3 linked regions of the Homo sapiens genome follow. The protein of the gene in region 2 purifies or fractionates together with the protein of the main gene of each other region. This does not show direct contact. Each region holds a gene or a part of one and is shown on either strand. Other genes may lie near its edges.

Region 1 (3,651 bases), on a different chromosome or scaffold from region 2:
CTCCCTTCATTTCTTCCTTTAAAATTAGACTACACATTTTACTTTTTTATATGTAGTTCTGTCTTTCAAGTCATTATATGGGGTATGTATGTGTGAGAGAGAGAGAATATGGGAAACTGTTGGAGGTGTTTCTGTTGGTCATCGGGGGACTGTCCCCCATCAGCTGTCCCAGGCAGAGGCAGCTGCTTTGGAGGGAGGCTACTCCTTCTCGCTGGAAGGCTTCCAGCACCAGCAGGCTTGCCTCTTGCCTGTGGTCCTATAAAGGGATGCTGAGACTGTAGGGACTGCACTGATTGACTTTCTGGTTCCCTTTTAGTTGTGAGGTTCTGTGATTCTGTGACATGATTCCCACAGCTGTTTTGAATGATTCGAATGATTCCTGAGGCCTTGATGTTCTTGGGAGATTCATGCATATCTGAATTCTATATTATTCTGCCAAAAATCTTAAGGTTTTGTGGAAAATAGCCACATATTTAAAATTTTAGTATTTTAGTATTCTCATATTTAAAGGCATATAACTATCTTAAATCCTTAGAAATGAGTGTGCTGCATGTTAGGGAGTGAATAAAGACACAGCAACAAAGCAGTTTAATTCAGTGAAGACTCTTTTTTAAAAAGGCAAAATGTGGCTCCTTCTGTTTTGTTCTTATCTGCCTAAGTGGTGAGCCACAGCGCACCTTATTGAATTATGCTCAGATCTGGCCTTTGCTAGCGGGGACAGCTTCCTGCTCTCTCTCTGCTTATCTTTCTGTCTGATCTTTCCATGTAAATAGCACCCTCAGTGCCAGAGGCTCTAGGTTGTCCTGCTGTATGTTTGCGTTTTCCTGGCCAAGGGGGACTGGGCACCTGTTGTTAGAAAGGAGCGACATGAATGACGTGCTTATCTGTGTCCATTGCAGGGTTACCCTGGATACCCCGATGAACAGGAAATCAATGCCTGAGGCTGACTTCAGCTCCTGGACACCCTTAGAATTCCTAGTTGAGTGAGTATTACAGACATGTCCATGACTGAGCAGCTTCCAGCCCCTATTCTCTGCCTGCTGTGGTCCAGAGGACAAGTCTGTGTTCCCTGAGATCGTCAATCCGGGTGGTCTTGGGAGGTCTCTGGGACTCTGAGGATGCATTGCACATCAGACGGAATCTCAGAGTAGCTGGACTTGGAGACAGGCAGCACAGTGGCAGAATGGGTAGTGCCGACATGAATCCTGGCTCGCTCCCTCACCACCGGCCATGCTGAGCACATTATTGACCTGCTGAGGCCTCAGTTTCCCCACCTGTATCATGAGGTCCATCATGCTTGTTAGGATTAAACGTGATAGTGTGCGGCAAGCACTCAACACAGTGTCTGGCCATAACAAGTGCTCAGTGATCCCCAGCTGCAGTTTGTGTCCTTACTGCTGTGATGAGGAGACTCCATGGGGGAGGGGGACACCACGTAGATGGCCTGGGGGCACATATCTGAATCTGTGTCAAGCCACAGACCCACAGAAAGTGCCCTTTAATTTCCGAAATCCTTTTTGCCCATTTGTGAATATGGGTGGCATTTGAACGCTCATGGGACAGAGAGCTGAATTCCTCTTTTGTGTTTGTTTAGGTATCAGTTCCTCAAGCCCCTCTAGTTAGTAAGCATGTGTTCATCGAGCACCCACTATGGGCCAGGTGCTGCCCTCGGCTCTGGGGTCACGGTGAGGACAAAGATGGGATCCCTGCCCACAGGGAGCAGGGGTGCCGAGAGGGTCAAGGTGACAGCCTGACCCAGTAGTGCCTCTGTGTAAACTGCTTTGACGACTGTTTATAAGAGATGTTTGTGAAGTTAGCAGTGTGCTTCTGGCCTGATGTCACAATCTCATTTAAATTAAATCGGGAGAAATTTGGGACTTGCGTTTTATGTTTGAAATGTGTACTTACAGAACACTTTTTATGTCCCAGTCACCATTCTAAGCACTTCATAACTCTTATTTAATGCTCATAGCAAACTCTGAGGGAGGAGCTGTCATTTTTATTTAAGGCTTAGAGACTTGGAGGGATGGCAGGGGCTAAGTCACTCGCCTAAGGTCACACAGCACAGCCGGGATCTGACACAAGTGGTGTGGCTGCAGAACCTATGGTCTTAACTGGTGTGCTGACAGTTATTTCTGTCTATGCCAGGAATCATGCTTCATGCTTGATTTGCAGGAAAAAAATTGAAGTTGTAGAGGAAATCAAGCTTTGAATTGTGTTTGTGTTTGAATTTCTTTTTAAAGGCCGACACTCCCACCACACTTGAGATACTGATCTAAGACCTACTCTAGATGGAACATCTGGGATCTTGTGTCTGAACTCGTGCTGAGCCACAGACCCACAGAGGACGGGCTGTCACAGGCCCCCTTTTGTTCTAGAGATCACATCCACCCATTTGTGGTATTTGAAAACTCTCAGAAAAGCTGGCATAAAGTTTGCTTTGAGATGTCTGTGAGCACATCCTTCCTCTACCATCCCTGGTTAGAATGGCGTTCTCACTCACCTATCCACGCTGCAGATGAGGGTGAAGAAGTAAAACCATTTAAAACATGCATCGCAGCAAACCAACATGGCACATGCATACCTGTGTAGCAAACCTGCACGCTGTGCACATGTAGCCTAGATCTTAAAGTATAAAAAAACAAAACAACAAAAAAACATGTGTAACCAACACACAAAACCCTACACAACCAAACGGCACTGGTCTCTTTCAGAGCCTTCCCTCACCAAGCCCTACCCTGTCCCCAGAGATGAGGCCATGACATGACAGTACTTTAGAGAGTTTTAGCAACGCTTTGTTTTTTGAGCCCATGTGCTCATATGAGCTTGTTCAAACCCCAGAGTAGGGGCCTGAATGACTGGACCTTTACACATCAGCGCTGGCCCAGAAGGTTACAGATTGGCACTGGGAGTCTCCCAGGAAGGAAATGCTGAGCACTTTTTAGTTAATGAAGGTCCGAAGTCTCAGCTGGTGAATTGTCAAAATGGATGATGTACTCAAATGTAAATGTTTTGTGTTAAAGAATTATCATCTACTTCTTGTTTCTTGTGAATTTCTTTTGCCCTTTTTCATTCCTGTCTTCTTAGAGGGTCTTTTTGACTGCTGCAAGTGGGGTCAGTTGCTCCTCTCCTCAGATTTGTGAAAGGCCCTGTTACTGTATTTAACATTTTATTGTAATAGTCTGTTTTTTTCTATCTCTTTTTCCATTGTTTGGTGCAGCTGTGGGTACTCTATAAATGTTTGATTAAAAAAATGCCAAATAAATGAATTGCATCTGTTTCTCTCATAAATTTATGAGAAGGTAATATAGCAAAGTATTGTGCATGTGTCTCTCTCTTTGAATGAACTAATTAAAATCTTTAAAAACAATTTTTTTTTTTTTTGAGACAGGGTCTCACTGGGTCACCCAGGCTGGAGTGCAGTGTCACGATCATGGCTTACCCTAGCCTTGATCTCCGGGGCTCAAGCAATCATCCCACCACAGCCTCCTGAGTAGCTGGGACTACAGGCATGTGCCATGCCCAGCTATTTTTTGTATTTTTTTAGAGGTAGGGTTTCACCCAGTTGCCCAGGCTGGTCTCAAAAACTCCTGGGCTCAAGTGATCCACCTGCCTCAGCCTCCCAAATTGCTGAGATTACAGGTGTGAGCC
Region 2 (3,651 bases):
CTTGGGCCACTCAAGTGCCTCTGTTTACCCTGCTATAAACTGAAGGATTTAAATGCTGTTGACCCCACTGGGGCCGTGGTGAGACTTTAGCACGATAAGGTTCACATGTTAAGTCCTAAGCCTGGGGCTGGGCACTTGGTGGATGCTCCACAGATGTTAGCCATCTCCATCGTCAGCTCTTCTAGAAAGGTGGTTCTTCTGGAAGAAGAAATGCCTGTCCTCCCTCAGGGCTTTGAGACTGGGAGCTGTACTGGATTGAATAGTTTCCTCCCACTGCCCCCTAAATTCATGTTTACCTGGAACCTATGACTAGGACCTAATTTGGAAATAAGGTCTTCGCAGAAATAATTAGTTAGGTTAAAATGAAGTCTTCCTGCATTAGAATGGCCCCTAATGCAATGACTGTTTTTTGTTTTTTGTTTTTTTTTTTTGAGATGGAGTCTCACTCTGTTGCCCTGGCTGGAGTGCAGTGGCACTATCTCGGCTCACTGCATCCTCTGCCTCCCAGGTTCAAAGATTCTTGTGCTTCAGCCTCCTAAATACCTGGGATTACAGGCACCTGCCATCACACCTGGCTAACTTTTTTTTGTAGTTTTAGTAGAAACTGGTTTCACAATGTAGGCCAGGCTGGTTTCGAACTCCTGACCTCAAGTGATCCACCTGCCTTGGCCTCCCAAAGTGCTGGGATTACAGGTGTGAGCCACAGCGCCCGGCTCAATGACTGGTATCTTTATAAGAAGAAGACAATCTGGAGACAGACACAGGCACAGTGGGGAGAACACCAAGTGACGCCAGAAGCAGAGTGAAGCCTCCACACGTCAAGGAACATGAAGGATTCCCGGCAGCCACGAGAAGGTGGAGAGGGGCATGGAACAGATTCTCCCCCAGAGCCTCGAGAAGGAGCCAACTCTGCTGAAACCTTGATTTCAGACCCTGGCCTCCAAACTGTGAGAGAATAAATTCTTGTTTTAACCCACACAGTTTGTGGTGATTTTTTACAGCAGACAAGGAAACAAATGCAGGTGCCTAGTCTGGAGGACCTTGATTTCACCTTACTCTCTGCTGTCCATATGAAGGACAGCAAACAAGGGCTTGGAAAACCCCAAATAATTTCAGGGTACTGGGGGCTGAGTTGGGGGAGCAAGTCTTATTTCACGGCAGCTCATTGGTAGAAACTGGAGACATGGTCCTATTCTGGGGGTGACAGAGCCGGGCACCGTGTTAGACACTTATGTGCACAATTTGTTTCTTTTTGTGGAGTATGGGTTCTCACCATGTTGCCCGGGCTGGTCTCAAACTCAGTTGAGCTGAAGGCAATCCTCCTGCTTCTGCCTCCCTAAGTACTGGGGTTACAGGCATGAGCCCCTGTGCCTGGCAGTGGGCACATTCTTGAATCCCCTGCCAGTGAAGAAGGGCTCACTTTGGTCTACACAGATAAGGAAACTGAGGCTCAGAAGTCCTTCCAGCACTTACTCTAGCATGTTCCTTGCACTTGTCAATTGCTGGGGAGCTGGCAGTTTGAACACACCCCTCCCTCTCCCACAGAGTGTGGCCCTGGGATGGTTTAGATTAAAGTCTCTTCCATTTAGACACCCCTTTAGGCCTGCCTGCCACACTCACACACACACATCCCCACACGTCCTTACGGTTAGGAGTGACCACGTGACCAGCTCTTAATCAAGTGTTAGAAGTATTATGTGAGATTTCTGGGAAGGCTGCTAAAGACAAGAAGGGGGCCACTCTGTCCTTCCCTTCTTTTTCCTTCCTATTGCCTGGAATTGAGATGCGATGGCTGGAGCTCCAGGAGCCATTTTGGCCCATGACGAAACCTTGAGGGTAGAGAGTAATCCAGCTCCAGCAGGGGAGGGCAGTGCTGCCGAGTGGTAAGTATGCAACAGGTTGCACAAAGGCGGGAATAATGAACACACTAGAGGGGGTGAGAGAGGGAGTGCTTGGGGGACTCTCAAAGGGGGGATGTCTGAAATTGGTGTCAAAAGATAACCAGGGCCGGGCACGGTGGCCCATGCTCGTGAAATCCCAGCACTTTGGGAGGCTGAGGCAAGCGGATCACCTGAGGTCGGGGGTTCGAGACCAGCCTGGCCAACATGGTGAAACCCTGTCTCTATTCAAAATACAAAAAAATTAGTAGGGCATAACGGCACATGCCCGTAATCCCAGCTACTTGGGAGGCTGAGGCCGGAGAATCTCCTGAACCCAGGAGGCAGCGGTTGCGGTGAGCTGAGATTGCGCCACTGCACTCCAGCCTGGGTACAAAGCAAGACTTGGTCTCAAAAAATAAATAGACAAATAAAATAAAATAAAATAAATAAGAAAGATAACCAGTGCCGGCAGGCGCTGCCCAGCACTTTGGGAGGCTGAGGTGGAAGGATCGTTTGAGGCCAGGAGTTCAAGGCCGGACTGGCTAACAGAGCTTGACCATGTCTCAATATTAAAAAAATAAAAAATAAATTAAAAAAAACAACAACAAAGAAAACCAGGAGTTCAGGAATAGGGGTTGGAATGGGATGGAGGGATAGGGAGGCATCCCCTGCAGAGGACACAGCATGTGCAAAGCCCCCAAGGCTAGGAGCAGCACAGCCCGTTACGAACTGCTGGAACAGCAGGCACAACACCATGCCGAAGAGCTCCAGTGTTGCCCCGGAGGCTGCTGCGGGGAGCCATGGGTGGTGGGGGCGGGGCAGGGGAGGGGGTGTTACCTGGAGGTCCAGCAGTCCTGTGAGCAGGGCCTTCCCGGCATGGGCTGCATTATTTAGCAGGTCCTCCCGCTTGATGATGTTGATGACCTCAGCCAGCAACAGGTTCTTGGACGGGTCCCCCAGCCAGGTGTTGAAGATCCGGTAGGGCTGGAATGAGGAACGGGTGTTGGAAGGCTTCACACACATGCACACCCTGCAGGAGTCACTTACCCCAGGCGCCCCGCCTCCTCTCTTGAAGAGGAGAGAAACTAATCTAGTGGGCATCTACCAGAGGCTGGCAGGGGAACACACCCAATCTCGCTGAATTCTTCTCTACCAGAGGCTAGCAGGAGAACACACCCAATCTTGCTGAATTCTTCCAACAGCAGCCCTGCATGTAGGAACTGCTATGGGGAGGACCAAATCGTCCCATGCACTGGGAAATCCCTCAGTCCCAGGAAACCAAGACAGTCAGTTCCTTAACTCCTATAACCCTCATTTTATACAGGAGGAAGCTGAGGTTCTGGGAGGCTAAGTGATTTGTCTAAGGCAAACGTGACTTACAGATGGAGTTGGGACTGGATTGCTGGCAGTGACCCTCAAAGATCATCCACTTTACCCCTCCATGAATGATTTAGGGTGGCCATGCGGCTAACTGAAACACCCTTCCCAGCCTCCCTTATGGCTAGAAGTGGCCATGTGACTGGGTCTTAGTCAAGTATTGGAAATAGACATATTATGTGAGATTTCTAGAAAGGCTGCTAAAGACAAGAAGGGGGCCACTTTGTCCTTCCCTTCTTTTTCTTTCCTACTGCCTAGAATTGAGATGTGATGGCTGGAGCATCAGAAGCCATTTTGGACCATGAGGCAACCTTGAGGGTAGAAACTACATGTAGGAATGGTGAAAGGACGTTGGCCCCTGATGGCTGTGTGTGTGTGTGTGTGTAAATCTGTA
Region 3 (3,651 bases), on a different chromosome or scaffold from region 2:
GCTTTGCTGGCAGGACTGGAGGAGTACAGGGACCTGTAGAACGTGGTCTGGGGCTTCTGGGAGCCTTATTGACTTAGTCAAAGCTCATTGGCTATAGAGTAGGGGGATATACAAAATGGAAAGAGCAAGATAATTTGTTTTAAGGTGTTTTTATTTGCCCTAGTTTTAACAAAACTTTCTTAGACTTATTAGGCATTTTGTACCATTTACTTGACTATTACTGTGATACATTACATGACCACTGCCTTTAGTGTTAATCTTTGCAAAGATCTTTTTGTTTCTACAATTGTAATGCAAGCCTTCTTATAAAATATTCAAACAATATAGAAACAAAATGAGAAGGTGGTATGTGTGGGGTAGGGAGACCATTGCTAGGAGATTTTCTTCATTATGTGCTTTTTTTGTTTTTTACTGTAAAAATTGTGGGAGACTTTTAAGTAGCCTACATATTAAAGCATTTTGAGATGTGTGATAGAGCACTGCTTCTCTGAAATTCTTAAAAATTCTGAAGTTTAGGCTGGGTGTGGTGGCTCATGCCTGTAATCCCAGCACTTTGGGAGGCCGAGGTGGGCGGATCACAAGGTCAGGAGATCGAGACCATCCTGGTTAACACGGTGAAACCCCGTCTCTACTAAAAAAAATACAAAAAATTAGACGGACGTGGTGGCATGCACCTGTAGTCCCAGCTACTTGGGAGGCTGAGGCAGGAGAATCGCTTGAACCCAGGAGGCAGAGGTTGCAGTGAGCTGAGATCACTCCATTGCACTCCAGCCTGGGCGACAAAGCGAGACTCCGTCTCAAAAAAAAAAAAAAAAAATTCTGAAGTTTAATGGTGTGATGGACATTTAGAGGGAAATGGAATACAGTTTTTAAGCTCAGTTTTATAGTCAATTAGTGTTTTATATTACTGTTGCTTAAAAACATTAAGAAAGGTAGATTTAGGAATAAACCTTTTGAGATAAAAAAAATACAGTGCAGTATTTTATTGCATCACTGAAATGGTGACAAGAAAAAGTATGTGATATACAAATTAATCCTGCAGTCTAACTCTTGACACTGTTTGCCTTGAACAACTAAAAACAAAACTCAGTAAATTTGAGATGAGACTTTAAATGCAAAAGCTGAAATGTGATTGGATTAGTATATAAGTGACATTAAAATTCTACATATACATTGGATGTTTTTGCTAAGAGAATTGCAAAGACATCAGTTTTAATATCTATAAATAGCATATTAGTGTGCTGTGAAGAATTACCTAATTTCGTGGTTTACCTCTATAATGTGATTGTTATAAAATACTGCTTTACCCAGCACCTTGGGAAGCCGAGGCGGGTGGATCACCTGAGGTCAGGAGTTCCAGACCAGCCTGACCAACATGGTGAAACCTGGTCTCTACTAAAAATAGAAAATTAGCTGGGCATGGTGGTGCATGCCTGTAATCCCAGCCACTTAGGAGGCTGAGGCAGGAGAGTCGCTTGAACCTGGGAGGAGGAGGTTGCAGTGAGCTGAGATCGCACCATTGCACTCCAGCCTGGGTAACAAGAGCGAAACTCCATCTCAAAAAAAAAAAAAAAACAAAAAAACTGTGTGTGTATATTGCTTTAGTACTTGCTCTGTATTATACAGTATTTACTAGCCATCATTTATTAGTGAAGTATTCCTGTGGTGGTTTATTGTATTTTCAATATAGTCATGCTAGATACAATTTCATATTATACAAGCTTCCTAGATTAAGGTAATGAGTAGTAAATGTATTAAAAATACTATATCACAGAGGTGAAATTAAGAGTTCTTGGCATATTGGCAGAACAAGATACAGGAAGAAACTGAGAAATCTGGTACATTTTTGCCAGACTTTTGCTGTTTTGATGCCGTGCACACAGTAGGCATTTAGTAAAGATCTTTGAATGAACTGAATATATTCTTTTGGTGAACTGGCAAAGCAGTGATCCCCCAACGTAGTGTGTTTGCATGTTGATTTATTTATTTAATAAATATTTGCTGTGTACTTACTAGATGTCAGGCCCTGCTGTGATGGTATGTGCATTCTAGTGGGATAAAACTGTCAAAAAATACATTTTAAAAACCAGGTAATGGTAAGTGCTATGCAGAAAGTTGAAATAGGATAAAGTATTTGATAATACTTCACTGGGTGGCTACATTTTTGTTGTTGTTTTGTTTTGTTTTTGAGATGCAGTCTTACTCTGTAGCCCAAGCTGGAGTGCAGTGGCGCCATCTTGGCTCACTGCAGCCTTCGCCTCTGGGGCTCAAGCGATTCTCCTGCCTCAGCCTCCCAAGTAGCTGGGACTAGAGGTGTGCCCCACCACACCTGGTTAATTTTTTTGTATTTTTAGTAGAGACAGGGTTTCATCATGTTGCCCTGGGTGGTCTTGAACTCCTGAGCTCAGGAGATCTGGGTGGCTACTTTTAAATTTACTAGTCACTGAAGGCCTTTCTGAATAAGGTGACATTTAAGCTGAGAGCTGAGTAAAAATGAGCACTCGAGAATGAAGAGAATGTTTTCTATAGGGAACTGCTAGAGCAAAGACCTTTAAGAATGTGTTTTGGGTACTGAAAAAAAGCCTGCATTGCTAAGGTGATGGGTAAGAGATAAGGGTGAGTTGGGTAAGAGATAAGAGAGTGAGTTAGGCAAGTGAGTTAGGCTAGGGGTTTTCAGGGTAAACTTGGAAACATTTACAAGCAGGACAGAAATCTTTGTTTCTTTGTCTCTGTCTCTCTTTTCTCTTTTTCCCTCCCTTCCTCTCTCCCTTCCTCCCTCCCTTCTTCCCTTCCTCCCTCCCTTCCTCCCTCCTTTCCTCCCTTCTTCCCTCCCTCCCTCCCTTCCCCCTTCCCTCTCCTTTCCTCTCCTTCCCTCCTTTCCTCCCTTCCTTCCCCACTCCTTTCCCTTCCTTCCTTCCCTTCCTTTTTCAACAAGGTCTTGCTCTGTCACCCAGGATAGAGTACAGTGGCATGATCATAGCTCACTGCAGCCCCAAACTCCTGGGCTCAAGTGATCCTCCACCCTAAGCCTCCCCAGTAGCTGGGACTACGGGGGCATGCCACCACGCCCAGCTAATTTTAGTTTTTTTTTGTAGGGATGGGGTCTTGATGTTTTATCCAGGCTGGTCTCCAACTTCTAGCCTCAAGTGATCCTCCTGCCTCAGCCTCCTAAAGTGCTGGGATGACAGGCATGAGCCAGCACACCTAGCCAAGAAATATTTCTTGTAGGATTTTTAAAGGTTACTTTGATGCTGTGGGGTGGGCAAGAGTGAAAAGCAGAGACATCAGTTAGGGGGCTTGTGCAGTAGTTTTAAGTAATTGCAGCTTGAACCAGGGCAGTAGGAGTGGAGATGTAGAGAAGTAGATGGAATTAGGATATGTTTTGAGAGGTACAGTTGGCTGTACCACTTGCTGTGTCACCTCAGGCAAGTTACTCAGTATGTGCCTTTTGGTCCTCTGCTGTAAAATGAGAATACTAGTATGAAAGTACTAACTTATTGGTATATGGGTTTTGAAATAATATTAACAGTGCTTGGCAATGTGGTACCACTCTCCCTCCATTGTTCTTGCTTAGAAAGCCTCAAATGTGATTAAATTCAACTCAGTGTTTGTACTTGCACCTGAGTGGCCAGAGATGCACCTTGTAGCCAC

The links.
Region 1: the proteins of ABAT (region 2) and QDPR fractionate together in Homo sapiens (co-fractionation; one large-scale study listed by BioGRID). This does not show direct contact.
Region 3: the proteins of ABAT (region 2) and RAD23B fractionate together in Homo sapiens (co-fractionation; one large-scale study listed by BioGRID). This does not show direct contact.

Annotation. Positions count from the first base shown.
Region 1 is NC_000004.12:17,487,994-17,491,644, reverse strand, and holds part of QDPR (dihydropteridine reductase), read left to right. Parts: intron 1-899; coding exon 900-983; intron 984-3,651. UniProt on the Homo sapiens protein: Catalyzes the conversion of quinonoid dihydrobiopterin into tetrahydrobiopterin.
Region 2 is NC_000016.10:8,775,557-8,779,207, reverse strand, and holds part of ABAT (4-aminobutyrate aminotransferase, mitochondrial isoform 1 precursor), read right to left. Parts: intron 2,865-3,651; coding exon 2,718-2,864; intron 1-2,717. UniProt on the Homo sapiens protein: Catalyzes the conversion of gamma-aminobutyrate and L-beta-aminoisobutyrate to succinate semialdehyde and methylmalonate semialdehyde, respectively. Can also convert delta-aminovalerate and beta-alanine.
Region 3 is NC_000009.12:107,286,276-107,289,926, forward strand, and holds part of RAD23B (UV excision repair protein RAD23 homolog B), read left to right. Parts: intron 1-3,651. UniProt on the Homo sapiens protein: Multiubiquitin chain receptor involved in modulation of proteasomal degradation. Binds to polyubiquitin chains.